Linked DNA regions of Homo sapiens. The protein of the gene in region 1 purifies or fractionates together with the protein of each later gene. This does not show direct contact. Each region holds a gene or a part of one and is shown on either strand. Other genes may lie near its edges. The genes, in order: EEF1AKMT1 and NFS1.

What was found.
Region 2: the proteins of EEF1AKMT1 (region 1) and NFS1 purify together in Homo sapiens (affinity purification with mass spectrometry; one large-scale study listed by BioGRID and IntAct). This does not show direct contact.

What each region holds. Positions count from the first base shown.
Region 1 is NC_000013.11:20,763,844-20,767,663, reverse strand, and holds part of EEF1AKMT1 (EEF1A lysine methyltransferase 1), read left to right. Parts: intron 1-3,820. UniProt on the Homo sapiens protein: Protein N-lysine methyltransferase that selectively catalyzes the trimethylation of EEF1A at 'Lys-79'.
Region 2 is NC_000020.11:35,689,230-35,693,049, reverse strand, and holds part of NFS1 (cysteine desulfurase isoform a precursor), read left to right. Parts: intron 1-679; exon of another isoform or gene 680-801; intron 802-2,484; coding exon 2,485-2,637; intron 2,638-3,820.

The DNA.
Region 1 (3,820 bases):
GTGTAAAAAACCACACCAAGGCACATCATAATCAAATACCCAAAACCAGTAATAAAGAGAAAAACCTTAAAAACCATTAGAAAAGAAAGACATGAAGAAAAATAAGAATTACAGCAGATTTTATGTGTGGAAACAATGCAGTGAACAGACAGTGGAGGACTATCTTTAAAATACCAAAAGAAAACTTGTCAACCTCAAATTCTATACCCACAGTTAAACAGACATTATCAGAAACAAAAGCTGAGAGAATGCATCACCAGCAGAATTATACTACAAGGAATGTTCAACGAAGTCATTCAAGCAGAAGGAAAATGACACCAGCTGGAAATATCTTTTTTTTTTTTTTTTTTTTTTTTTTGAGACAGAATCTCGCTTTGTCGCCCAGGCAGGAGTGCAGTGGCAAGATCTAGGCTCGCTGCAAGCTCCGCCTCCCGGGTTCATGCCATTCTCCTGCCTCAGCCTCCCGAGTAGCTGGGACTACAGGTGCTTGCCACAACGCCCGGCTAATTTTTTGTATTTTTAGTGGAGACGGGGTTTCACCGTGTTAGCCAGGATGGTCTCGATCTCCTGACCTCGTGATCCGCCCACCTCAGCCTCCCAAAGTGCTGGGATTACAGGTGTGAGTCACCGCGCCTGGCCCACCATCTGGAAATATCTATACAACAGAATGAGGAGTTAAATATATGTATGAGTTTTTAATTTAACAATGTAGTGTGGCATTTATAACAAATGTAAAAGTAAAATGTATGACAACAATAACACAAAGGTTTGGAGAAGAGAAATGGATTTATGTATACTATTCTAAGCTTCTGTTTTTTTCTTTTTCTTTTTTTGTTTTTTTTGAGATGGAGTCTTGCTCTGTCGCCCAGGCTGGAGTGCAGTGGTGTGATCTTGGCTCGCTGCAACCTCTGCCTCATAGGTTCAAGCAATTCTCTTGTCTCAGCCTCCTGAGTAGCTGGGACTACAGGCGCCTGCCATCACACCTGGCTAATTTTTGTATTTTTAGTTGAGACAGGATTTCACCATATTGGTCAGGCTAGTCTCAAACTCCTGACTTCAGGTGATCCACCTGCCTTGGCCTCCCAAAGTGCTGGGATTACAGACGTGAGCCACCGCACCCAGCCATGTACCATAATTCTTAAGCAACCTCTTAAATAACAGAGTCACAGCTAGTAAGCTAGCAATGGAGAAAGAAATAGATTCATAAAATGTTTTCACTGCTATGTAGTGAATATATTTATACTGTAGGAATATACAACATTATATACTGTCTAATGGTTGGACATTTCAGTTGAGTTTAATTTTTTCTATTACATGTTTCTTTTTTTCTTTTTCTTTTCTTTCTTTCTTTTTTTTTTTTTTTTTGAGATGGAGTCTCACTGTGTCACCCAGGCTGGAGTGCAGTGTTGTGATCTCTGCCCACTGCAACCTCCTCCTCCCAGGTTCAAGTGATTCTCCTGCCTCAGCCTCCTAAATAGCTGAGATTACAGGCAGTGCCAACATGCCCAGCTAATTTTTTTGTATTTTTAGTAGAGATGGGGTTTCACCATGTTGGCCAGGCTGGTCTTGAACTCCTAACCTCATGATCTGCCCACCTTGGCCTCCCAAAGTGCTGGGATTACAGGTTTGAGCCACCACGCCCAGCCTCTATTGCATATTTCTATTTTGAGCATCTTTTCATATATGCCTACTTGATGTTAGACTTCTTAATTGCGGTCAATCTGGTAGGTGTATAGTGGTATCTCATTATGATTATAATTTGCATTCCCTCATGACAAGGTTGAATACCTTGTCATATGATGTTTGATTATCTGTATGTCATCTTTTATAAAGTGCCTGTTGAAATGTTTTTCCTATTTTGTCTTTTGGTATAAAAGAATTCTAAAAAAAAAAAAATTCAAGAAACATATATGAAAGCTAGAAAAGGAAACAAGAATTAAAACCAAGAGAAGAGGCCAGACGCAGTGGCTCATGCCTGTAATCCCAGCACTTTGGGAGCCCAAGGCAGGTGGATCACGAGGTCAGGAGTTCGAGACCAGCCTGGCCAACATGGTGAATCCCATCTCTACTAAAAGATACAAAAAATAGCCAGGTGTGGTGGCCGGCGCTTGTAATCGCAGCCACTGGGGAGGCTGAGGCAGGGGAATCGTGTGAAACTAGAAGGCGGAGGTTGCAGTGAGCTGAGATTGCACCACTGCACTCCAGCCTGGGCGAAAGAGTGAAACTCTATCTCAAAAAAAAAAAAAAAAAAAAAAAAACCCAAGGGAAGAAACAGAAAGCAAATAATGAAATAGGCTTAAGCACAATATATCAATAATAACATTAAGTGTAAAAGGTCCAGATGCACCAATAAAGGAGCTTATCAGTAAGGATTTAGTTTTTATTTTTATTTTATTTTATTTTCGAGTTGGAGTCTTGCACTGTTGCCTGGGCTGGAGTGCAGTGGCACGATCTCGCTCACTGTAACCTCTGCCTCCCGGGTTCAAGCGATTTTCCTGCCTCAGCCTCCCGAGTAGCTGGGATTACAGGTGCCCTCCACCATGCCCGGCTAGTTTTTTGTATTTTTAGTAGAGACGGGGTTTCGTTATGTTGACCAGGCTGGTCTCAAACTCCTGACCTCGTGATCCACCCGCCTCAGCCTCTCAAAGTGCTGGGATAACAGGCGTGAGCCACTGTGCCTGGCCAGGATTTTTTTTTTAGACGAAAACTATATGCTGCCCACAAGAAACTCACTTCAAAATTAGGGTGTGTGTGTGTGTGTGTGTGTGTGTGTGTGTGTGTGTTGAAAGTGAAAGGAAGGGGAAAATATATGCCATAGAAGCTTTTTTTTAAAAGCATGAGCACTTTTATTGATAGCAGGTAAAGTAGACTTATAAGAGTAAAGAAGTCACTAGGAACAACAACAGAATTACATAATGATAAAAAGAGTGAATTCATCAAGAACAAACAACAGTTCTAAGTATGTACGCACCAAACGAGAACAATTTAAATTACATGAAGCATGAAATAAAAACTGATAGAACTGAAAGGAAACAGACAAATCCACAATTACAGCTGGGTACTTCCATTCCCTCTCAGCAATCGATAGAACTACTAGATGGGAAACCAGCAAGGATACAGGGGACTTAATAACACCATTAACCAAAAGGATCTATTCACATTTATATAACCTTCACCCAACAACATCAAAATACACATTGTTTTCAAGTATTCATGGAATATTTCACCAACATAGACCATATCCATAGCTATTACACAAACTTCAGCATTTTTAAAAAGTGTTGAAATTATACATGCTAGAAAACCTAATAGGAAAATCTCCAAACACTTGGAAATTAAACAGTGTCCTTCTAAATATATGGGCCAGAGAGAAATTTAAAAGTACACTGAACTGAATGAAAATGGGTGAAAAAGGACAAAAATTTGCTGGGATGTTGCTAAAAGGGAATTTAAAGCACTGAACACTTAAATTAGAAGAAAGGTCTCAAAACAGTGTTCTAAACTCCCAGAACAAAAAGGTAGTTTAAAACAAATGCAAAGCAAGTAGAAGGAAGGAAATGAAAGGCAGAAATCAATGAAATTGAAAATAAAGTCAATGATGCAAAAACTTATTTTTTAAAAGAGATCAATAAAATTGATGAACCTTTAGTAAGAAAAAAGAGAAAACAGAAATTACTGACATTAGGAATGAAATGGGGGATATCAGTACAGATCCTAAAGACATTAGAAATAATTGAGGACTGCTATAAACATCTCTATCCAGATAAATTTTAACAACTTAGATGAAGCAGACCAATTCGTTGAAACTACAAACTACGAG
Region 2 (3,820 bases), on another chromosome or scaffold:
TGATCCTGTTCTGCAAAGTTGATACTGTTAATTCTTTTTTTTTTTCCCAAGGGGGAGTCTTGCTGTGTCACCCAGGCTGGAGTGCAGTGCCGTAATCTTGGCTTACTACAACTTCTGCCTCCAGGGTTCAAGCGATTCTCCTGCCTCATCTTCCTGAGTAGCTGGGATTACAGGAGCCTGCTACCACACCCAGCTAATTTTTGTATTTTTAGTAGAGACGGGGTTTCGCCATGTTGACTAGGCTGGTCTCAAACTTCTGACCTCAGGTGATCCACCTGCCTCAGTCTCCCAAAGTGCTGGGATTACAGGTGTGAACCACTGCTCCTGGCCCATTTTTTTTTCTTTTTTCTGTTTTTTGAGACAGAGTCTTGATCTCACCTAGGCTGGAGTGCAGTAGCCAGATCTCAGCTCACTGCAGCCTTGACCTCCTTGGCTCAGGTGATCCTCCTGAGTAGCTGGGACTACAGATGTGTACCACCACGCCAGGCTAATTTTTTTTTTTTTTTTTTTTTTTTTTTTTTTAGTATAGATGATGTTGCTCAGGCTGGTCTTGAACTCCTGAGCTCAAGCGATCCTCCTGCCTTAGTCTCCCAAAGTGGTGGGATTATAGGCATTAGCCACCACCACATCCAGCCCCCTTTTTTTTTTTTAATTAATTAATTTATTTATTTATTTTGAGATGGAGTCTCACCCTGTCGCCCAGGCTAGAGTGTAGGGGCATGATCTCGGCTCACTGCAACCTCTGCCTCCCAGGTTCAAGCGATTCTCCTGCCTCATCCTCCTGAGTAGCCGGGATTACAGGTGCGTGCCACCACACCTCGCTAATTTTTGTATTTTTATTTTTATTTATTTATTTATTTTTTGAGACAGAGTTTTGCTCTTGTTGCCCAGGCTGAAGTGCAATGGCGTGACCTCGGCTCACTGCAGCCTCCAACTCCTGGGTTCAAGCGATTCTCCTGCCTCAGCCTCCAGAGTATCTGGGATTACAGGCATGTACTACCACGCCTGGCTAATTTTTGTATTTTTTTTAGTAGAGACGGAGTTTTTCCATGTTGGTCAGGCTGGTCTTGAACTCCCGACCTTAGGTGACCCTCCCTTCTCGGCCTCCCAAAGTGTTGGAATTACAGGTGTGAGCCACCGCGCCTGGCCATTTTTGTATTTTTAGTAGAGATGGGGTTCCACCATGTTCGTCAGGCTGGTCTCAAACTCCTGACCTCGTGATCCACCTGCCTGAGCCTCCCAAAGTGGAGGGATTACAGGCATGAGCCACTGCACCTGGCGTTCTTTTTTTTTTTTTTTTTTTTTTTTTTTGAGATGCAGTCTCGCTCTGTTGCCCAGGCTGGAGTGCAATAGCACTCTTGGCTCACTGCAACCTCTGCCTCCTGATTTCAAGTGATTCCCCTCCCTCAGCCTCCTGAGTAGTTGGGATTACAGGTGCGTGCCACCGGGCCTGGCTTATTTTTTAATTTTTAGTAGAGATGGGGTTTCCCCATGTTGGCCAGGCTGGTCTCAAACTCCTGACCTTAGATGATCCACCTGCCTCGGCCTCCCAAAGTGCTCGGATTACAGTCGTGAGGCACTGCACCTGGCCGCTTTTTTTTTTTCTTCAATGAGATAAATGTTTTTTTTAGTTTCTTGTAATAGTTGAAATTCCAGGAATTTTTAAATGTACCTTTATTGTTTCTTGTGATATTAACAGTAATACCTACTCATGACTTGTTTACTGTTATATCACTGGCACCTAGAAAATTACTTGGGATACTGGAGGTGCTAAATATTGGTTAAATGAATGAATCATAAATTCCAATAATATAGAGTAGAACTCTAAACACATTTTCACTGCTAATTTGCTGTATATTTCTCCAGATTTTTAAATACCTACATTAATCTGTATACTATTATTATTTTAATAGATTTTATTTTTTATAGCAGTTTTAGGTTCACAGCAAAATTGAAAGGAAGGTATAGAAATTTCCTATATATGCCCTGCCCCCAGGTATGCACAGCCTTCTGCCATTATTAGCATCCTCCATCAAGTGGTACATTTGTTGCAATTGATGACCTGATATTGATACATCATTATCACCCAAAGTCCATAGCTTATATTAGGATTCACTGGTGTTGTACATTCTATGGGTTTGGACAAATGTGATTTATTCTAGTGAATTATTGAACTTGACCGGGCTTCGGGAAGCCCTGAATTTGTATTTGACTGGGCAGAAGTATGGGTAGCTTGAGACCCCTGGGACTTATGTCTGGTATCTGAACTAGGGGCAGTCTTGTACGATTGAGCCCTTAACCCATGGGGTTTTCACTAAGTCTGGAGAGTTAGCCTCAGAATTGAATTATAGGATACTCAGTTGGTATGAGAGAACTGGTGTTGGAGCATACTGTTCTTGCCCACTTTTCCTTTACAAATGAGATTGAAGTCATTGCTGTCTCTCTGAGTATGTTCTCCTTCCATCTGTCACCACCAATTTCTAGGGGGTGGCCCGATTCTACAGGTCACGGAAAAAGCACTTGATCACCACCCAGACAGAACACAAATGTGTCTTGGACTCCTGCCGTTCACTGGAAGCTGAGGGCTTTCAGGTCACCTACCTCCCAGTGCAGAAGAGTGGGATCATTGACCTAAAGGTAGGAGTGGCTATTGGCAGGAGGAGCAAAAATGGAGGAGCCTGGCTTCAGCTTGTAAATTTCTCTCTTGGGCCCTAGCTGGAGCTTGAAGGAATAGATCTAACAGTTAGGATGAAGTTTAGAGAAATAAGCCTGGCAGAGAACGAGATCATGTTCCCCTTGAGTGTGTACTGTCCTCCTTTTCTCTGGAGGACTTGTTTCTTTTTCTTTTTTTTGAGATGGAGTCTCACTCTTTTGCCCAGGCTAGAGTGCAGTGGCTTGATCTCAGCTCTCTGCAACCTCTGGAGGACTTGTTACTTCTTTTTTTTATTTTGAGACAGAGTTTGGCTCTTATAACTCAGGCTGGAATGCAGTGGCGCGATCTCGGCTCACTGCAACCTCCGCCTCCTGGGTTCTAATGATTCTCCTGCCTCACCCTCCCGAGTAGCTGGGATTACAGACGCATGCCACCAGGCCCAGTTAATTTTTTTTTTTTTTTTTTTTGAGGCAGAGTCTCATTCTGTCACCTAGGCAGGAGTGCAGTGGCACTCCACTGCAACCTCCACCTCCCGGGTTCAAGTGATTCTCCTGCCTCAGCCTCCTGAGTAGCTGGGACTACAGGCACGTGCCACCACACCTGGCTAATTTTTTTTTTTTTTTTTTTTAAAACAGAGTCTCGCTGTATTGCCAGGCTGGAGTGCAGTGGCGCGATCTTGGCTCACTGCAACCTCTGCCTCCCGGGTTCAAGCGACTCCCCTGCCTCGGCCTCCCAAGTAGCTGGGATTACAGGCATGCACCACCACGCCTTGCTAGTGTTTTTTTGTATTTTAGTAGAGACGGGGTTTCACCATGTTAGCCAGGATGGTCTCTATCTCCTGACCTCGTGATCCACCCACTTCGGCCTCCCAAAGTGCTGGGATTACAGGCGTGAGCCACCGTGCCCGGCCACACTTGGCTAATTTTTTATATTTTTAGTAGAGATGGGGTTTCACCATATTGGCCAGGCTGGTCTCGAACTCCTGACCTCGTGATCCACCTGCCTCGGCCTCCCAAAGTGCTGGGATTACAGGCATGAGCCGCCATGCCTGGCTCTAATTTTTGTATTTTTAGTAGAGACAGAGTTTCACCATGTTGGTCAGGCTGGTCTTGACCTTTTGACCTCAGGTGATCCACCCATCTCGGACTCCCAGAGTGCTGGGATTAC